3 linked regions of the Homo sapiens genome follow. The protein of the gene in region 1 interacts with the protein of each later gene in a pairwise test. Each region holds a gene or a part of one and is shown in the gene's direction. Other genes may lie near its edges.

Region 1 (6,829 bases):
ATTGTGCCACTGCACTCCAACCTGGGCGACAGAGCGAGACTCTGTCTCAAAAAAAAAAAAAAAAAAGGCTTGGAAGAGAGAGATACTTATTAAAAATTCAGTTTTGGCCAGGCATGGTGACTCACGTCTGTAATTCTAGCACTTTGGGAGGCTGAGGCAGGTGGATCACCTGAGGTCAGGAGTTCGAGACCAGCCTGGCCAACATGGCAAAACTCTGTCTCTACTTAAAATACAAAAATTAGCCAGACATGGTGGCATACGCCTATAATCCTAGCTACTTGGGAGGCTGAGGAAGGAGAATTGCTTGAACCCAGGAGGTGGAGGTTGCAGTGAGCTGAGATTGCACCATTGCACTCCAGCCTGTGCGATGAGAGTGAGATTCCGTCTCAAAAAAAAAAAAAAAAAATTCAGTTTCTGGGGCCTCCCTCCATGTCTGCTAATTCAGAGTGTCTGAGGGACTGGGATGAGAAATGTTCATTTTCAATAAGCACCCCTGTTGATTCTTAAGTACCCCTAGAGTTAATTGTTGAGTATCATAAAGTTTACTTCATTTTTCATGTTTAATTTCTGTGATTTATTAGATGATAAATATTTGGTTGCCATCATATTGTTTTTCTTAAATACTATGTTCTATAGTTAAAAAAAAAAAAAGGCTGTGAGGTCACTGAACACCAAGATTAGAATTTGGCAATCATTAATTATCAACAAGGTGAGACAGGCACTGATTCCTGGAAATGTGCATTTATCCATTCACCGACTTCTCAGTTAGAAAAAGGATGTGGACACAAGTAAGATTAATTTTGTTAAAAACAAGAAATGTGCAGTATCATTTAGGATGCTGGGGGTAGGGAAGTAGATAAAAGGGAGATGTTGAGAGGAAAGAGTGTGAAGAGAGAGTAAAGCAGTTTGTAAGTGATACAAACTTTAAAATTTTAACTGAATTTTAAACTACCAAGTCATATTTGAATATATGCTTGTTGTAAAAAAATTCATGATTTTTGGGGGGTAATTTGGATAAAGCTAAACATAGCTATTTGATCTTTATTCCCATTACAGTGCTCTCCCTGCTGTGTGCATCCTCCCAGATCTTCTGTATGTATTTGGTAATTTTCTGTGGATTTGGAAGACTACAGAATCCTGAGAAATGGATATTTTAATTTCTCTTTTGAAACCTGCTTATTGTTTATAATGTCAAGATCTATTGCAGAAAAGAAAGTAAATCTGGGATGTCAATGACATCACATATGTCTGTTCAAATGAAACAATGGGCACATACACATATGCACACTCATTAAATATCTGTTGAGACCACCCTATTAAAAAAAGCATAAATAGTTTTGGGTGTTAAGTTACTTGAGTTTTAAAATAACGTATTTTCTGTTTTTGTTGTTTTTTGTTTTGAGATGGAGTCTCCTTCTGTCGCCTGGGCTGGATTGCAGTGGCGCAATCTCGGCTCTGCAACCTCTGTCTCCTGGGTTCAAGTGATTCTCCTGCCCCAGCCTCTAGAGTAGCTGGGGTTAGAGGTGTATGCCACCATGCCTGGCTAATTTTAAAATAATGTATTGAAAGAACTTAGTCAGAAAGCCACAGTTATTATTTCTCCCATAGCCTCATATTCTCATAATTTTCATGTAACCTCATAAATCCTCAAGTGCCTGAAACCACTAGTTCAAACGAGTACCTTTTTAAGCTCTAAAATGTAATCCTCAACCTTTCCACTTTAAAAGGAAGAACTAGGATGGAGTGTGGCTATAATTTGGGGCAGTTGGTTAAAACTGTATCAGAGTCCCAAAGAGGGGAATGATAAGCTGCAGCAGCTCTGTTCACTTGCTCAATGGTGTTTCTCTTAGTCAACTTAGGAGTTCCATGCCTTTGGCCTTCAGGCTGCTCTTTATATAGTTCGTATCTGTCTCCTGGGCATAGTACTGTCTGGATTTTCTCTTTCTTTTTTTTTTTTTTTTTTTGAGACGAAGTTTTGCTCTGTTGTTGCCCAGGCTGGAGTGCAATGGCACAATCTTGGCTGACTGCAACCTCTGCCTCCCGGGTTCAAGCGATTCTCCTGCCTCAGCCTCCCGAGTAGCTGGGATTACAGGCATGTGCCACCACACCTGGCTAATTTTGTATTTTTAGTAGAGATGGGGGTTTCTCCATGTTGGTTAGGCTAGTCTTGAACTCCCGACCTCAGGTGATCCGCCCACCTCGGCCTTCCAAAGTGCTGCAATTATAGGCGTGAACCGCTGTGCCCGGCCCTCTTATTTAAAGTTCGCAAATACAGAACAGGTCAGGAGCTTTTCTAATCATTTTTTTTTTTTCTGAAGGAGGTTCCATATTTGTCTGTACCTTGAGAGTTGTTTCATACTAGAATTTGTAACTTATCATCAACTACAGAAATTTTTTTTAAAGTGTGGTTGAAGAGATAATGGTTGTCAGCTGCTATAAAGATGTGTTTATCATTCAGAAAGGACTAATTAACATGTACTATAGGGAAACTTCTTTAAACAAAGCCATTTTCTGAAAGGAAAACACTGAAGGGGAGGAAATAAAACAGGGAACATTTTATAATACCTTATCAAAGCTCAGCGTGGCTATCCTACTGGAATAATGTAATTAAGGAGAATTAAGTGAGTTGGATAAATAACTTTTTAAAACTAGCCCCTTGAATAGAAAATTAAGTAGTATAGTTTTTAAACTCAAATTCTGTCTGCACGTACATTTTAATTAACCTAACATTATTGAATGACAAGCTGAGTTGGCAGCTACATCCAGAGTTCATGCCATGTGAGACCTACCTTAAAGGATGAACGAAGCTGGGTGCAGAGGCCTCAAATGCCCTGCTAAGAAATAGCTGATGGCCTTGGGGAACTGTCATACATTTTAAGCAGGAAACAGAAGGATCTAATAGGAACTTTAGTTTCTCTCTTGTCAAATTAAAGCACACAAAAAGCAAGGACTTGATCTTTTTTTTTTTTTTTTGTATAACACCAATGTCAATTCTAGCCTGTCAGGGCAAATTCAGTAATTAATAGCTGTTGATGAGCCAGTCATTCTAGATTGATTTTTTAAATAAGCAGGCTAATAAATGAGAATTGACATAAATTTAGGGATGTCTCTTTTCAGAGCAAGTGTTAAGGTGATTTTCATAGTCTTCTGTATTCCCTATGCATCCAGTAGGTGTGATGGTAAATGATTTGGCTTTAGCATAGAGAATGTGGCAGCTGATTAAAAAAAAAAAATTCCAGTGCATCTATCTTAATGAGAGAACTTGAGTTGTCTGAAGAAATAGAGAGGTCAGAGGAGGCCTAGTGGGAAAAAAGAACAATGAGCCTGGTTAGAACTGACAAAAATTCACCCTAATGATTTGACTGGCTAATGATGACTGGGCAAGTTCCCTGAGTCCACTGACCCAGATGTTCTAATTTGTAAATGCAAAGTGACTTATTTATCAGCCTCCTGGGGAAATCTTCAGAGCTGTGAACCTGCTATGTTCAGTAATCTTGCTGGCCCCAGCCCCAGCCTGTTCTCAGATGAAATTTTAGAAACTGGCCACTGGAACTTTTTGGGTAAGGGCTCTGGAGGTGGCCAAGTTACCAGTAGTGGGGGAATGAGGTTTACCTGCCCCCAGTAATCAGCACTTGATTTAAAACAATCAGTGAGCTGCCTCTTCTTTCCTAGGTTGCAGTTGACTGCGGTTGGTTCAGGCTGAGTTGTTTGGGAAGTACAAATTTTGCCCAGCGTGAGTCAGCACTGCCCTGGGTAAACTCCCTGCTGTGTTGCAATCTTGCTTACCAAAGATACATCCCCAGGCGGCACCATTCACTTCACATGAAAGCCGCTGCTCTTGGTTCCTGAGATGATCTCATCTGAACATGGCTCCAGCGACCTCAGCCACAGGAACTAGAGACAGCTTGCTTTCTGTCGTGGCAATGTTTTGAAACTGGCAAAATCAGGTAACCTCAAACTGTTTTCTTAAGTTTCATTAGCTAGATGAAGCTGCATTAGAAACTGGGAAAATCCTGTCTTCAGAAGTGAGTCAGGTTTTTTTTTTTTTTTTTTTTTTTTTTTTTTTTGAGACGGAGTTTCACTCTTGTTGCCCAAGCTGGAGTGCAATGGTGTGATCTCGGCTCACTGCAACCTTCACCTCCCGGGTTCAAGTGATTCTCCTGCCTCAGCCTCCCAAGTAGCTGGGATTATAGATGTGCGCCACCATGCCCGGCTAATTTTGTATTTTTAGTAGAGACAGGGTTTTGCTGTGTTGGTCAGTCTGGTTTCGAACTCCCAAGCTCAGGTGATCCACCCTCCTCAGCCTCCCAAAGTGCTGGAATTATAGGCATGAGCCACGGCCCCCGGCCAGAAGTTTTCTTTCATTTGAGTTCTGGATGTGGAGTTAGGTCCAATTAAATCACTGATTATATAAATCTTAGAAAAGTAAAACGTTAGGTTTACAGCTTTATCCGTCATTTGCTCTTGTATTTTGTTTTTTTGTGTGTATCTTGTGAGAAACACTTTAGTCAAACTAAGCCATTGTTAAAGGAAAAGAAGTGAAGGCATTTGGTTGCCTTCCTAATAACTAAATATTGAGTTGTGGAGAACACTGTCTTATCAGTGAGTTTGTTCCCATATTCCTTTCTGAATTAATAGGAAGAACCTCCCTCATCTCTAATTCTACTAGGCTACTACTCTATCTCCCTCCTGCTTTTCATCGCCAAACTTTTGAGTCCTTCACCTAATCAGACTATGATATCTCTAGGTAGTCGTCACCCTCCAAATTACGTTTCTGCTCCTTATAATTCCAACAAATTGCCCACGTTCTCTTTCACCTCAGACCTTAGCATATGTAAGCGTTCTTTTACACACCTTCCCCAAGCTTAATCTGGCCAACTGGTTTCAGCCTAGAAGTCACCTCTTCCATGAAGCCTCTTCTTACTTACCAGGGTTGAGTACTCAGGAGAACCTGGTATTTACTCCAATCATAGTATGTATTGAGAATCAGGGTCTGCTTTGCTAGAATTGTATCCATGGTACGTTGCACATAGTAGGTTCTCAGTAAGGGTAGAATGAGCAAGAGCCTGTACTGTACTTTCTCAACTCTGATCCTCTCATCAACTCTTTTTTTTTTCTTCTGAGAGGAATCTTGCTCTGTCACCCAGGCTGCAGTGCAGTGGTGTGATCTTAGCTCACTGCAACCTCTGCCTTCCTGGTTCAAGCGATTCTCCTGCCTTAGCCTCCTGAGTTGCTGGGACTACAGGTACGTGCCACCACGCCCAGCTAATTTTTGTATTTTTAGTAGAGACAGTGTTTCACCATGTTGGCGAGGATGGTCTCGATCTCTTGACCTCATGGTCCACCTGCCTTGGCCTCCCAAAGTGCTGGGTTTACAGGTGTGAGCCACCGCGCCCGGCCTTGTTCATTCTTTTTATGCTCACATCTTTAAATGTGCTAAACCCTGTTGATTTTGTTGGAGTACTGTTTGATGTGTGGCTTTTCTTCATTCCCACTGTCATTGCCTTAATTTACCAGAGGTCAAAACTGGACGTTTAAAGTCAGGCTGGGCACGGTGGCTCACGCCTGTAATCCCAGCACTTTGGGAGGCCGAGGTGGGCAGATCACCTGAGGTCAGGAGTTTGAGACCAGCCTGGCTAACATGGTGAAACCCCATCTCTACTAAAAACAAAAAATTAGCTGGGCGTGGTGGCACGTGCCTATAATCCCAGTTACTCAGGATGCTGAAGCAGGAGAATCACTTGAACCCAGGAGGTGGAGGTTGCAGTGAGCGAGGATCACACCACTGCACTCCAGCCTGAGCAACAGTGAGACTCCATATCAAAAAAAAAAAAGAGTTTGAGACCATCCTGGCCAACATGGTGAAACCCTGTCTGTATTTAAAAAAAAAAAAAAAGGCACGCCACGCATGGTGGCCAGTGCCTGTGGTACCAGCTACCCAGCAGGCTGAGAAAAGAGAATTGCTTGCACCCAGGAGGTGGAGGTTTCAATGAGCTGAGATTGTGCCACTGAACTCCAGCCTAGGCACAGAAGAAGACTCCATCCCAAAAATCAATCAGTCAGCCTAAGGGCTTAAAATTTTGTGTGTGAATACTTTTAGGCACCATCAGAGAGAAGGCCTGTACTCTTCAAAGATTACGGATACCACCATTTTCTGACATCTTACACACTGAAGACTTAGCATTTTACCTGCATTGCCTCTAGGAATTTGAGTTTGTAACTCCTAGTTCAGACCCTTATCAAATGGCCACTCCTCCATAAGTCTTTCCTTGCTCCTATCTTCTCCATATTGTTGCCCAAGTTATCTTTTTAAAGTCCACATCTAATCTTTTCATTTAAGGTGCCATTTGTTCCCTGTTTTCCACTTAGCTTGACTTCTAAAAGCTTTCACAGTTGGATTCTTTCCTACATGTTGCTGTTAACCATCTCATCTCCCTCTCCCCTGGCCATTTCTCTCCTCTCCAGCTTCACTGAACTTCTCATGTTAACATTCCATGGATATACCATGTCTTTTAGGACTCTGCCTTTTCCCAATGGACTCTCCCTTCTCTAACTGGCAAGATACTCATCCCTCAGGACACTTAGTTCATATATGCATCTTCTCTGACTTCTCTGTCTTTTCTGACAGACAGCACTGTCTGTCTCTTCCACTAGACTGTTGAGTTCTTTGACTGAACTTGGTGTCCCTGGACTAGAGCTTGGCACCATCAGAGAGAGTGGCTGACGTGGATCTCCGGGCTCAAACCGTTATTCTTTGCAATATTAGAAGCTTTTTTGTTAGATGGCATGGTTTTTCATTCCTATTTGATGAACATGAGCCCATGGCTGC
Region 2 (7,028 bases), on another chromosome or scaffold:
CACACTCATCCGTCTTACAAATGCTGACCGAGAACTGCAGCTCGGATGAGGAGGGATGGAGGGGGTGTGCAGAGGGTGGGGCCCCGTCCGAGCCCTTGGCTTCTGCCCACGAGTGAAGCAGAATTTAGGGAAGAGGTGGCTGAGCCCCTACCCACACTAAGGGCTGGAGTGGGAGCCAAGGAGTCAGGCGCTGAGGTTAGAGGAGGGAGGTTTCAGAGAGGCGAGCTGAGTCCAAGGGGTGCGGTCGGCCGCCCTCTCTTCACTTCAAGCTGCAAGGAAAGGGGCTTTAAAGAAAGCCGCCAGAGAGCTTCACCGTGTCCCCTGCAGTTTAATAAATCCCTTGGACTGATGCCTCACCCACTGCAAAGTCTAGAGGGCAGTCAGGCTGGCTGCATTGAAGGCGGAGCTAAGGAGAGGGCTGGCGGCCCAGGTGAGGGCCTCCTGTGAGAGACAGCATGGAGTCTCCTAGGTCCAGTCGAAGGAGGCTGCCCAGAGAGTGAACCGACCTCAGCCAAGAGGAGGCAGAGCTGCCACTAAGTATTGGGGGCTTATGGGTCCCCTGAGGCCCATGTGAAACACTCTAGTCAGGGGACCATGGGGCCAGGCTCTTAGGACCCTTGGAGGAGCCCACAGAGAAAGAGGGACAGCTCTCAACCTCTGCAAACCCAGAGCGCAGCTCAGCCAGAGGCTGCCATGCCCACTGCCTGCCCCAAGCTGCCACCCCCAGGCCTGAGCTGGGTGGGGAGCAGGAGAGTTGATGATGGCATGGGCTTCGATGGGGGCTGAGCCTGTGTTTTGTGATGTGAAGTGATGAGGACCATTTGTATTTTCTTACCAAGATGCACCCAGCTGGCGAGGCTTTCTCTCTCTCTCTCTGTCTCTCTCTCTCTCTCCCCCCTGTACCCCTCAGCTCTCTCTCTCTCCCCCTGTACCCCTCAGCCAGGGCCCAACAAAAAATAGGGCCTAAGGAAAAGAGCCCTGGGCTGGGGCTCCACAGAGTTGCGTTTGGAGGCCTGGGGAGGAGGGACTTGAATTTGGGCCTGGAATGTGGGATCATGAGCAACAATGGAGGAAGGCGCAGAGGCCCCCAAGACCTGTGGGCATGAGCACCATGAGCCGCTCGCCCGGGGAAGGACAAGAATGAAGGCCCTGGTCAGCTGAAACAGCCCACGACTGCCTCCTGAAACACTGTGACGAGAGAAAACCCGACCTTCATCCGGGCTTGAAATCATCCCTTCCTTTCCCACTTCCAAACTCCCCCCAGCCTCAGTTTCTCCCCACAGCCCCTATGTGAGGAAACCACAGTGGGAAACACAGGGCTGAAGCGTTCCTAGTGGACAAGACCAGGTCCTTCCACAGCCTCCTTAACCTTCTGTGGGTCTGATATACCGCAGAGAATACTGGGAATTGCCAAGGCCGTCTCTGGGAAGTCTGCAGATGCCCGTGTGCCCACAACAGGTCCGCCTCTGAGGCCCATGTGGGAGTCCAGCCCCCTTTCTCCTCCCCTTCTCATTCCTGTGTTCCCCACAGGCCCAGGGGAGGGACCCAGCTGGAAGCACTTGGGGCCCTGGATAGGCCACTGAGGAAGGGGGGTGTGGTGGCAGGGTCACATACGCCCCACATCTGTATGAGGGGTGTCCACCCAGGTGCTAGCTGCAGTGGGAGGTTCGCAAGGCCCGAACAGCCGGTGGGTCCAGCAGAGCAGGGCAGTTGTCCCAGGCCCGCGGTGTCACGGCTGGTGAACTCCGAGGACAGCGCATCTGAGTGTGGGATGTCAGCGAGTGTGCCAAGCAGGGGCGAGCAGCTCTTGGGGGTGCTGCTGTGATGAGTGGGTTCCTCTGCTCCTGACTCCTCCGGCCAGGCCGTCAGGAAGACCAGCCCATCACGGCAGTGCAGTCACCAAGTTTCCAAGCTGCTGTGTAAGCCGTGGGCATAGAACCGCCAGCGGGATCTCAGCATCCACGGTGCTCACTCTAGGAAGAAGGCAACAGGCTTTGGGACCTGGCTTTACCACTCCCTAGCCTGTGACTTGGGCCAGTCTTTTAGCTTTTCTGGGTCTCACCATTATCATCTGTAGAGTGAGATAATTACACTTTTCTCCCAAGGTCACTATGAGGACTCAAAATGCTCAATGCGTCCCTGCTTGCGGAGGCGAGGCTTGCTCAGAGTCAGGAGGGCAGGACTGTCTCAGGCAGTGAAAGGAGGATGGGGCTGGGCACGGTGGCTCATGCCTGGAACTCCAGCACTTTGGGAGGCAGAGGCAGGTGGATCACTTGAGCCCCAGACTTTGAGACCAGCCTGGGCAACATAGTGAGACCCCATCTCTACGAAAAAATACAAAAATTAGCCGTGCATGGTGGCATGAGCCTTGTAGTCCCAGCTACTTGGGAGGCTGAAATAGGAGGATTGCTTGAGCCTGGGAGGTCAAGGCTGCAGTGAGCCATGATCATACCACTGTACTCCAGCCTGGGTGAGAGAGTGAGACCCTGTCTCAAAAAAAAAAAAAAAAAAAAAAAAAGCAGATGAGCTCCCAGGATGCCGGCCCTGAGCTGGCAGCCATGAAGGCGCTTGCCTCCCTCCACTTCCTAGGGTGCAGTGTGGGTGGGGCGGGGGCAGCTAGGGAGTCCTCCGGGCTCTGCCGAGCCCCTTCCCCAGTGTGAAGTCCAGCCTGTTCTGAAGTCGCACAGGGCCAGACACCTGGGCTGCCACCTCCCCTCTGGAAACAGTCCTCCTTGCCTCGGTGGGTCGACAGCTCCAGGCTATTTTCTTCCCCTGAGGATCTGAAAGTTGGAGGTAATTGGTTGGCTCAAAAAAAAAAAAAAAAAAAAAGGAAAAGGGCATGCAAGCACAATTGTGCAGGCTGCAAAGGAGGGAGGCATCCTAGGGCTTCGTCTCCATGGGAACTACTGGCACAGGCTGGCTCCTCTGGGCTCCAAAAAGGGAAACTTGGCAAAGGTTTCAGGCACCTGGCTCCTGAGTGGTTTGCTTGGGGGCCAAGCAAATGCCCAGGAGCTGCCCGCCCAAGGGACAGGACACAGCCCCCTCTCTCAGGGATGCCTGGGAGCCCTCGGCCCCATCCTTCACCCTCACACCCCAGGAGATCCCGTCAGGTCCTCAGCCACCCTGGATGCATCCTGACTTGGGAGCTGGGAGGGGACCCAGCACAGCTGGAGAGCATGAGCAGGTCATGCTTTGGGGAGACACCCGTGCTTCGAGGCCCTCGGATGGGTGAATGGGAGGTAGTTAATAAGGGACAGATGAAAGAGGTGGAAGGACCCTGAGTGTCACCCTGCTGATGTAGCCCTGGTGGCTGTTGCTGTTTCTAGGATGTGAGCCCCAGACCAGCACCTTGCAGACCAGCACCTCAGGCCAGGACCCTGAGAGAGGACGCTTCAGATGCTGGGTGCAGTGGCTCCCTGCTGTCCTGGGGGCCCCTTGGGCTGAGATCATCATAAGGGTGGCACTGTCCTGTGTCTGTGAAGAGTGGCAGGCGGGACTGGGGCAGTGGGGGTGTCCTGGCTTGTTCTGGAAAATACCTCCAGGAATGATCCCTTCCTTTTCCACTTCCACAGTCCCTCCTGGGCACTCTGGGTTCAACTGCTGCTCCTCCCCACTTCTTGGGGCAGAAACTCCTGCCCTGAACTCCCCTCTCCCCAGCCCCAGCTCCCTGCACCCTCTACCCCCATTCCTCCTTGGTGACCAAAAAGGGCAAGGAGCAGAGAAAGAGGCAGCGGGCAGGGGAGGCACAGAGAGCCGCTGGTGACAGGGTAGGGGAGAGGCCAGGAGAGCCAGACAGAGGCTTGGACAGGCTCTGAGAGACCAGGATTAGGGGCCATGGAGAGAGAGAGAGAAAGAGGGGAGAGAGAGAGAGAGAAAGAGGGGAGAGAGAGAGAGAGAGAGAAAGAGAGAAAGGGAGGGAGCGAGGAGGCAGAGGGGTGGAGCGATAGAAGCCGGCAGGGAGGAAGGGGTGGGCAGGGGGAGGGCGAGAAGCCGCCGTTGACAATTACGTCTGGGTCCAAGCAAACATGAGGCAGCTGCCAGCCGGCCTGGGCAGTCTTGTCTGCCTCGGCTGTGAAGTGGGGAGGCTGGCAACAGTTTTCTTCAGCGCCCAGGATGCAGCCGGCTAAGGTAGGTGCTGGGGGAATGGGGTCTTGCTCTGGAGGGGGGTCGGGGGGAGGAATGGAGGCTTCTGGGGGTTGCTCTGGACCAGGAAGCCTTTTTCTTTGACCCTTGTCCCCTCTTGTTCCACTTTCCTTTGGGGAAAGTGAGCGTTGGGGCGTCCTGGCTGGCGCTGGGGTGTCCTGGCTGGTGTTGGAGTGTCCTGGCTGGCGTTGGGGTGTCCTGGCTGGTGTTGGGGTGTCCTGGCTGGGAGGCTGAACTCCTAGGGCTCCCTTTGGATGGGAGAGGTTTATAAGTGTTTGCGGAAGAAAAGCTGGACAGAGGAGGAGCTTGGGGTCAGCCCACGACTCATCCTGCTCAGTTAGGTCCCTGGGTCAGGTGCCAGCGTGGCTGACACTGAGCCCGGGCCCCACAGCCTTCAGGTTTGGGGGAGGGGTGAGCCTGGGAGGGAGTCACTTGTGCTTGGAGGTTGGTCAATGAACGCATCTTCTAATCAAGCAATCAAGTAACGAATGAGTGCCCACTTCCTCTGAAAGGGCTAGGAGCCCCTAACAAGAGCACTTCCCACACATTCCCTTTCAGTAGGGCTGTGGGGAGGTCAGAGAGAGAATGCAAGGAAAACGCCTGGCACAGAGTTTGAGAAACAGTGGTGGGGAACAGGGAAGGGTGAAGAATTAAAGGAGGAATGAGGGAAGGAGAAATAAGCTGGCCCTCCAGCCTCTAGCTGACTCTCAAAAGGTCTGGCCTGATGCCCTGTGAGCTGCTCACACATTCAGGATAGTTCAGGTCTGGCTGCTCATAACAGAACGCCCCAAATAACAGTGGATGGAACAAGGTTAGCGGGGTTTCTCTCTCATGCAGAAGTCCAGAGGGGCAGTGGAGGGCTGGCTTGGAGGCCGCCTGATCAGCAGCATTTCAGGCCTGCCCTGTATCACCCCTGAGGTTACCTTAAGGTGCAACATAACTGCTGGAGCTCCAGCCAGCACACATGGGCTCATACTGACATATGAGCAGGAAGGAGAAAGAAAGAAGGGCAAAAGGACCCAGAGACAATCAGGGTCTTGAATGTAGGAAAGAAGGGATATGGGGTTGGCACCTCAGCGTCTCTGCCCTGAACAGATGGCTTCCTGCCTCTTTCATCTGTGAGGACAAGCATCCAAGCATGGGCGGGTGGCTGGCTTGGACCACACTGCCCCCAAACCCCAGGCCTCCCTTGTGCTATCTGCTCCATCTTCCAGGGTGCCAAGAGGATCAGCTGAGGTGATGGCATGAAGCCCTTTGAGCATGGCAACACTACACATGGAAAATGTGCCTTCTCTCCTGTCACCTCAAGTCTCCCCAGCAACCACCATGCAGGCAGGGCAGAGTGGAGAAACGTAGCGCCTTGCCCCAGGCTCACACACTACGGCGTCAGGGTGCACAGTGCAACCGTGCCCATAGGCAGAGACACATTGAGCGACCCTGCATGACTACAGAGATGGGAATTTCCAGAGTCAGGCTGCACACAGATGTGCACACAGCCAGCTCTGACCTCCAGCAGAAGACAGTCCTCCCCTCCTTTGCCTTTCCTCTGCGGGCCTTAACTGCCAAAGGTCACTCTGGGAGCTTGGCCACTCCTGCCCCTGCCAGACTGGCAGAGTGGGTGGCCTGAGTCCTGCACTTACATCTGGTTCTTCCCTTGGCCATTGTGACCCCACACTGCGCTCTACCCTCCCACAACCAGCTCCTGGGCCCCAGTGGGTCTCACTGTCCTTATGTCTGCTGGTGGCCTTCCTGTGGCTGGCCTGGCCAGGGAGGGGAGTGGGACCCACACCTCCTGGTGCTGGGCCCAGCAGAGACAGTGGTCCTAGGAGAAGCCACCATTAGGTTTCTCATCAAGATCAATGGGAGATTGTGAAAAATAACCTTCCTCTCTTGTGGCAGCAGGGACTGTAGTCAGAGCTCAGGTTGGGAGGTGTTCTGACTCCTCAGGGTCACGGTCAGTGGCTGTCCCCCAGTAACGCCCCATGACTGCCCGGCTCCCTAGCCTACTCCCCAGCCATTCATGAATTCTCACCTCACTCCTATGGGGAGGCGGGGAGGCACTGCCATTCCTATTCTAGACACTGAGGCTCAGAAAACTGGAACAGCTCCAGGACTCCATGAGCTTGATCCCATGAGCTCTTAGGAGAAAGGAGCGAAAGACCCGCAGTTTCTGCGACAGGCGCTGCTGTCGCGGTGTTGAGGCTGTGGTGTCTTCACAGCTCAGCCCGTGCACTGGGAACCCCTTTTGCCTGGCTTCCAGCCTTGTTGCAGGGCACTGTGCGAGATGGGCCCTAATTTGCTCCCACATTTCAAAAGACCCCAGGCTGCACTGGGAAGAAAGGGGCTCTGCCTCAGCCCTCCAGGTAGAGCCCAGGAGAAGGGCAGAGCTGAGAGCCAGAAGCCTGAGGGTACCAACGCCCATCTAGGACATTGTCTCCCGCATTATCTCCCTGGACCCTCACGCAGCCCACAAGGCAGCTGTTGGTATCATCCCCACTTCACAGATGGGGAAACAGAGGCCTGCCCCAGACTGCAGGCTACAAGAGTTGTGGCTGAGATTTGAACCCTGCTCTGTCTTACTCCAGAGCGCAGCAAGTCCCTAGGGCTTGGGGGTTGCGGAAGAAGACGCAGGAGGAGAAGGGCATGCCTTTAACCAGATGGCAGAGGAGGGGCCCATCCCAGCCGTGCGGCCGGTGGTCTGTTGTGCCCTCTGAGCCCTCCAGTGAGTGCACACAAGCCAGACTCCACCTGGCCGCATCCCCTGCGTTAGCCACGTGACCTGGAGCTAGCTGCCTCCCATTTTTGGACTGTGGATCCAGAGCTAGGAAGTAAAGGACCCCAACATTTTAAATTCAGGCTGCCTTGTCTTATCAAGACCTTCTGTG
Region 3 (7,261 bases), on another chromosome or scaffold:
ACGGACATCTTTGAGCCTCATTTTCCTCTTTGCACAATGGGGATCATGATACCTTCTTCTTCCAGCAATTGTGAGGGTTTCCATGAGAAAGGGATGTAAACGCATTTGGTAGGCCGGGTGTGGTAGCTCATGCCTGTAATCCCAGCACTTTGGGAGGCCAGTGTGGGAGGATCACTTGAGCCCAGGAGTTCAAGACCAGCCTGGGCTACATAGTGAGACCCCCGTCTCTACAAAAAAACAAATAAAACAAAATTAGCTGGGCATAGTGATATGCACCCGGTAGTTCCAGCTACTCAGGAGGCTGCGGTAGGAGGATCACCTGAGCCCAGGAGATCAAGGCTGAAGTGAGCCAAGTTCGCACCACTGCAGTCCAGCCTGGGCAACAGAGTGAGACCCTGACAAAAAATAACCAAAACCAAAACCAAAACATTATTTTGTGACTCTCAGTTCTCAGCTTCTCAGCTGAACTATGTTGCTTAAATTGGATCCCACACATCGCTCCACAAGCCGACTACCACCCTAGCGAGCCTTTCTGTTTCCTTTTAACTTCAAACACTCGTTGGTTATGCTGGGGCTTGGGTACAGGTACCCGGTATTCCAGAACAAAAGGGTTGGGCCTTGAAACCTGACTCTTACTGGTTGTGCATCTTGGACAAGCTGCTTCAACACTGGGCCTCACTTTCTTTCTCTGTAAATGGAAGTGATGATACTGACTTTATAAGGTTGTTGAGAAAAATCACATGTAACAGTGCATTTAAAACACATAGCATTCTACCCTGCACATAGTAGATATTCAAGAAATATTAGCCATTATTATTATTACCTCCAATGGTCAACCCTAGCCTGGTTCTGAGTAGGTAAAGAGGAGGAGGAAGGGAATTTTTCATGCAACCCTCTTGCTCAGGTAGGGAGTAGAAGCGAGGGCCAATAAAGAACTAGCATTGAGCTCCTACTGAATGCTGGGGATGCTCACAGGGACTATCTTACTTCATCCTCACAACAACTCTTGCAAGAGTGGCATTATTAACCACGTTTTTACAGGTGGGGGAACTGAGGTCCACAAAGGGCAGTTTGCTGCTTAAGGTCACACTGAGAGGTCAGGTGGGGTGGAGGACTGGGATTTGAAGAGATATTGGATTGAGTCCAGAGCCTTCCTGCCTGACTGAGAAGCTGCCTACACAGGTGGGGCCGGGTGGGGCTGGGTCCATGAGTGATTCAGGTAAGAGTCAGCTCTGGTTTTCCAAATAGTGGGTGGGGCCCAGCAGGAGTGAGACCTCTCCAGGAGCATTACAATCCAGGCTGTAGCTAGGGTGAGCAGGAGGGCACGTGATTGGTGTGGATAATGGGGAGGGGGCTATGCAGAGAGAAATCCTATCCCTTGTTACCAGTGGGGTATAGGGAAGGAGGTCCTTGCTGCCTTAGCTGGGAAGGGCTCAGGGCCTGGGGTGAAGCTGGGCCTGTGGGACAGCTGGGGGTGCTGGCCCATGGGACAAGCTGGAGAAGGCAGGGAAACTGAGGCAGGCAGTGATACTTTTGGTGGCCGTCACAGCAGATGGGTGGTTGGCAGTCACTTCGATGAGGCTGGTGCTGGACCTGGTCTGTTTTTTTAATGCATTCACTACTCTTTTAGATACTCATTCATTTCTTTGTTCAAGCAACAAACATTCCCTGGATGTCTTTTATCCGCCAGATCCTATGCTTGGCCTTGGGGCTACAAGAGTGACCAGGACTCTTATAGCCTCATAATGTTTGGGGGCAGAGGGACAATGTGATCAGGAGTGGCACTGCTGTGGCCAGGGAAGGCACAGGGGCTTCCTAGAGGAGAGAAGGGGGAGGAGGAGGCATGTTAGAGGAGGCCTACCAGGGGACATGGGAGGTGGACTTGCCCTATAAGTGGAAGCTCACAATCTTGAGGACTAGGATGGTGACACCAGTCCTAGGCATTTAGACTATAGCTTTGCAGTAGGGAGCAGGAAAAGGTGGCCCTGTGCTGTGGTCTCTTTCCCAGGGCTGGGGCAAGGGCTACCCCAGACCTCTCCCCTGTGTATCCAGCTGCATGCTGGGGCGGTTGGGGGTGCTGGCCCATGGGCCAAGCTGGAGAAGGCAGGGAAGGTTTGATCCTCCTCATTCCTTGAAGTGGATCAAATACAAGAAGCCCAAATTCAAATTCCACCTACCCATGCCAGCTCCCCTTCCCTGGATATTACCACCAGCATTGAGCCAGAAGGCTAGGTGTCCTCAGCACCTTTCTTCCCCTAAGCTCTAGTGCTAATCGGTCACCAAGCCCTGGCACTTCTGCCACCATTTCTCTCATCTACCTTCTCCCCACTCCATGCTCTTGGTCCTGCCTCATCCCTGGAGGGCTGCCTCGGCACCCTGCCTGCTCTCTCAGACTCCATCCTCTCCTGTATTGCAGCTGTGTTGAGATCTGTGGTGCTGGTCACAGAGCCTGGCTGCAGTGAGGGCTCAATTGCTCCATGCTGGAACTGGACCAGTCCTCAGAGACCATCTGATCTGCTCATTCTGTTGTTCAAATGGGGAAACAGAGGCCCAGTGAGGCCTAGCGGCTTGTTTAAGGTCACGCTATGGAAGAAGTGACTTGAACTCACTTCTGATTCTGAGGTGAAGGCTCTTCCCATCAGTGCCAGGGCCACACAAGTGTTTCTTGTTTTGAGTGCAGATGGGTGGCTTGGAAGTCAGCAGGAGGCACAGGTGTGGTGACTTGATGGGCTCAGGGCCCAAAGGGAGGGAGGGCCTGGGAGTGGAAGATGGAACCTCATTCAAGCCCGTCTCTCCTTTCTTCTCACCAGAAACTCCCCCTTTCTTTGGACAACTGGACCCCCACACCTCCACCCTGTCCCCATCCCTTTTGCTGATAATCCCATCTCCTTGCCCTGTAAATGCTAGGGGGCCCTTGATTTGGGGAGGAAGGGAAGGCTGAAGCCGGTCCCGGCACCCTGAGAGCCCCAGGGCCCTCCAATGCCCCACTCCTTCTCCAGGTCTGCCCTGGCTTGCTCTGTCTCCCTAGGGCAGCTGGCTTTTGTCCCAGGGGAGCATGGGAACAGCTTGGGTGAGAATGGGGGAGGGGCTTCCCAGCAGGTTTCACCTCTCCCACCTGGCATAATTTCTACCCTGCACCCAGTGATGCCCAGGAGCCAGCACAAGAACCTCTGAGCTCTCCTGCCGGCTTTCCCCACTGTGGGGCCCACAGGATGGCTGGGTGTGCTGGGGAAACTGAGGGAGATGACTTGTGGGTGCCAGCACCATGGGACTTTGGGTGATCTTGGACCTATTCCTTCCTCCTTCTAGGTGCTTCCTGAGCTGGCGAAAAGGAGAGCTGGATGCTGGGATTCTATAAATTCGGCGGTGGATGTGAGTCTAGCTACAGCATGGACCCTGGCCAGCCCTGGAATCTGAGTTCAGAGATCTTTGAAAAAATGCCTTCCGATAACTGAGCACCTACTACATGCTGGACACTGCACCAGGAGATTTGTGTGCATTCCCTCATTGAATCTTACAACCACCCTCTGGGATGGTTTTTGCTATTAAGCCGATTTTATAGATGAGAATACTGAGGGCTAGAAAAGATAAGTACCTTGTCCAAGGTGACACGGCCAGTAAGCTGTGGAGTCTGGATTTGAACTAGGCTCTCTTGGAGTTTGGAGCCCGGTCTTTTCATTTCTGGCAGAGACCTGTGGCTTCAGGGGGCGGAGCCCAGCCCATGGGGGAAGTAAGTCCTTCCTGTTAGATCTGTCTGAGGAGTAGTGAGTTTCTCATCTAGGAAACCATCAGCAGGCCAGGCTGGACTGCCCCATTTCTAGCCCCCTTTCTTCTCTGCAGACTGCCCTGTTTCTAGCCCCTTTTCTTCTCTACCCTTTTCTGTAGAGTGCGTTAGACCCATTTTACAGAAGGGGACTCTGAGACCCTTTCTTCTCTGCGGGGCAGGGTATGTGGTTCAGACGAGCCGCTTCCATCCCCAGTTCTGTCCCTAAGCCCTGGGTGACCTCAGCATTGAGCATCGTCTCTGAGCCTCAGTTTCCTGTCTATATCTAGTGCCACCAGGCATCAGAAACGTAAGTGCTTCAAGGATCTTGGGTGAAAAGCCGCTTTAGCGGCGAGCATACACTAATTAATAAAATGCCTTGGCCGGGGCTGGGCAGAGGAAGTAAGCGGGCAGCCGAGGTGACAGCTGGAGGGAGGAGCGGGGGTGGAGCCGGGGGAAGGGTGGGGAGGGGATGGGCTGGAGCTCCGGGCAGTGTGCGAGGCGCACGCACAGGAGCCTGCACTCTGCGTCCCGCACCCCAGCAGCCGCGCCATGAGCCGTGAGTGCGACCCCGGTGCCCGGTGGGGAATTTTCTTGGCCTCCTGGTGGAGCCTTGAATGCCAGGCTCAGCCCCTCATCTCTCTCCTCTGCAGGGAGTCTCTTGCTCTGGTTCTTGCTGTTCCTGCTCCTGCTCCCGCCGCTCCCCGTCCTGCTCGCGGACCCAGGGGCGCCCACGCCAGGTAGGCGGCCCCATCCCTCCCCAAGGGAATCCCCGGTCTTGCGCCCCTGGCCTGGTTTCAACCCCCTCCTTTCCCCTCCAGCGGGCCCAGCTTCCCCTTTCTGCTCGCGGTGCTGAGAAAGACTGAGGCTGAGTCTTTTGGTGGGATGGGGGCTCCCTGAAGCCCCCCCGGCGGTGTGGCCTTGGCTAATGGGCTATCTAGTTCTTTCAGGGGAAACAGCAGACTGGGATCTGGTGCCAACTTGGGGAGAAGGGACAGTCCCTATCCATCCCCCTCACCTGTTCTGGGCCCCAGATGTCTAAGCAGCCTCTGCACCCAACAACCCCGCTGTTTCCTATAGGGGCCTCTTTGGGAGGAAGCCGCAGGCACCAAGGGAAATGAGTTCCCTTTCTCCAGCCTCTAACCGTCTGGGAACCCATCCTGATTCCCATTGCCAGTGGAGAAGGTCTCCCCTGGTGAAGACTTCGGGAGAACATGGGAGATGGAAATACATTTAGGAGCCGGGATGCTTCATCTGGGGTTTAAGAGATCCCCATTGAGCAAATGAGGAAACCGAGGCTCAGTAGGTGCCATGATTCCCCAAGCTCACAAAATACATGGTGGGCCCAGGATCTGAACTCAGGTCTGTCTGCGTCCACACACTTCGCAAGGTCTTTCCACAGAAAGCTGCTTCTACCCACAATGGACCCGGAGCCACTCTGGGTTTCATGGGGGAGGTTGATGGGGAAATTCCGCCCTTCCCTCCCCCATGCATGTGCCAGGTTCCAGGTGAAGGAATTCAGCTCCTCGCTCAGCCAACCTTCCTCCCCCAGCTCGCTGCTTGTGTGTGTGCGTGTGTGTGAGCATGTGTCCCAGTTGGATATAGTTTCCTCCACCACCTAGCTGTGTAAAATCTCTAAAATGAGGCCCAGAGAGGGCAGGAGGGAGCAGAGGGAGTCCGCACTTTCTGCTGTGATGCTCTAAGGATCTGGTGCGTGGGGGAAAGAGGAAAGATATGTACATGGATTTTGGATCAGACCAAGTTTCCTGAAACGGGCTTTGGGTGGGTGGCATTTAGGGGACCCAAAGAGAGGACGGAGGGTGCTCTAGGAAAGGGATTGCGTTGAATAAAAGTCTGGTTTATGGGAAGAGGAGGAGGAAGACTCATGTGGCCAGCACTTTAAAGTTTACAAAGGTTGGTTGTGGACATCCACCTCTTTGGTGCTCTCAACAGCCCTGCCAGAGAGATGCGTTAGACCCAGTCTACAGAAGGGGACTCTGAGGCCCAGAGGGAGTGAAGCCACTTGTCTGAATCCTCACAGTGAGCTGGTGGTGGGGAGTAGAAGGGGCTCTTCAGGTTGCCTCGCTGACCCATCTTGTCAGTCCCTGGATCAGCCCAGCACTTCCTCTGAGGCCCCATCTGGCCTCATCCAGGCACTCTTGGTATACAGGTCCCACCCGTCTGTATTCTTTTTTAGTCCATTCACTAATGCACAATGAGCCATGGTCTGTGCTATTTTGTTTTTTGCCTTTTCTGTTTCCTTTTGTATAATAAATGTTTACACGGAATTGTTTTTTTTTATCCCCAAGGGTTATTTATGCCAGTCTTTGGCTGGGGCCTGGAGACACGGAGCTGGGAGGAGCTGACAGGCTGATGGTGGAGCCAGAAATGCCAACAGACTGTCATCCAAGGGGACCAGGGCTGTGCGGAGCTCATGGGAGGAAGCAGGGGTATAGGGAGCCCAGGGAAGGGAGCAGGGGTGTGCGGAGCTCAGGGGAGGGAGCAGCTGCCTCTCAGTGCGAAGAATTGAGGGAGGCTTCTTGGATCTGATGACTTTTGGACTGGACCTCGAAGGAGGTGGCGGGTGGGGGAAACACTAAGAGACTCGACCAGGAAACACCGTAAGGGTAATGTGGAGCAGGAGGCTGAGGTTGGATGCGTAATGTGGGGATGAGACTGGAGGCCAGAAAACTGGTACCGAGGCTCCTGCAAGGATCTAGGAAAGAACGAATGACTGGTGGAGTGCAGGGGCAGAAGGTCTGGGTTGCCCTCATATTTCCAAGTCTGCGAGTAAACTGAGGGCCAAGCTACTTGGGCATCTGCCCCAGGAAGCCAAAGCCTGTCTTTTACCTCTAGAGGCAAAGGAGATGAAGAGATGAGGGCTGCACTCACCTAAGAGGGCAGGCGGAGGGAGAGAATGCTGCTTTTGCCTCTCTGGTGGGTGAGGAGATGGAGGCCAGCCTGGAGGCAAGGCTGTGCCGGGGGCGCCCTGAATGCTCAAGTACTTCCCCTCTAGTCTCTGGACTTGACTCAGTGCCCATCTTCTAGATGGGGATAGGGCATGACCTGGCAACCAGAGCTGCATGCCAGGCAGAGGAGCCCCAGGCCAGCTGACCCGGGCACATGGGGCAAGATGCCAGCTGTGCCAAGGCTGCCCGGGTGCCTGCACCTGCTCTCGCCAGCACCAGTTGGGTCTGTGGGCCGGGAGAGGGCTTCCCCACCAGCAGGCTCTTCCAGCTGCTGGGCCCAGTTGTCTGGATCTGGTGTGGTGGTGCTTAGGTGTGGGGACTGGGGCCCAGGCCAAACCAGTCAGGGTTCCCCACCTTTTTTTTTTTTCTCTCTGGCTGCCAGGTCCCCAGAGACTCTCTAAATATTACTCTTTAGGGGATTTGGGTCCTGCCTCTTCACTGGGCAATCTTGCAGCCTGACACCTCTGCATCCTGGAGGACTTGGTGTTCCCTGGCTGTGCCTGTCCCCTAGTCACGCTCAGTCCTGGAC

What was found. The genes of interacting proteins can lie anywhere in the genome.
Region 2: the proteins of RFFL (region 1) and KCNIP3 interact in binary tests that used the Homo sapiens proteins (3 or more experiments, as listed by UniProt).
Region 3: the proteins of RFFL (region 1) and PTGS1 interact in binary tests that used the Homo sapiens proteins (3 or more experiments, as listed by UniProt).

Annotation. Positions count from the first base shown.
Region 1 is NC_000017.11:35,060,694-35,067,522, reverse strand, and holds the start of RFFL (E3 ubiquitin-protein ligase rififylin), read left to right. Parts: upstream 1-3,815; 5' UTR 3,816-3,947; intron 3,948-6,829.
Region 2 is NC_000002.12:95,293,326-95,300,353, forward strand, and holds the start of KCNIP3 (calsenilin), read left to right. Parts: upstream 1-4,021; 5' UTR 4,022-4,113; coding exon 4,114-4,128; intron 4,129-7,028. UniProt on the Homo sapiens protein: Calcium-dependent transcriptional repressor that binds to the DRE element of genes including PDYN and FOS. Affinity for DNA is reduced upon binding to calcium and enhanced by binding to magnesium. Seems to be involved in nociception.
Region 3 is NC_000009.12:122,366,770-122,374,030, forward strand, and holds the start of PTGS1 (prostaglandin G/H synthase 1 isoform 1 precursor), read left to right. Parts: upstream 1-4,254; 5' UTR 4,255-4,315; coding exon 4,316-4,322; intron 4,323-4,416; coding exon 4,417-4,503; intron 4,504-4,843; exon of another isoform or gene 4,844-5,046; coding exon of another isoform or gene 5,047-5,065; intron 5,066-7,261. UniProt on the Homo sapiens protein: Dual cyclooxygenase and peroxidase that plays an important role in the biosynthesis pathway of prostanoids, a class of C20 oxylipins mainly derived from arachidonate ((5Z,8Z,11Z,14Z)-eicosatetraenoate, AA, C20:4(n-6)), with a particular role in the inflammatory response.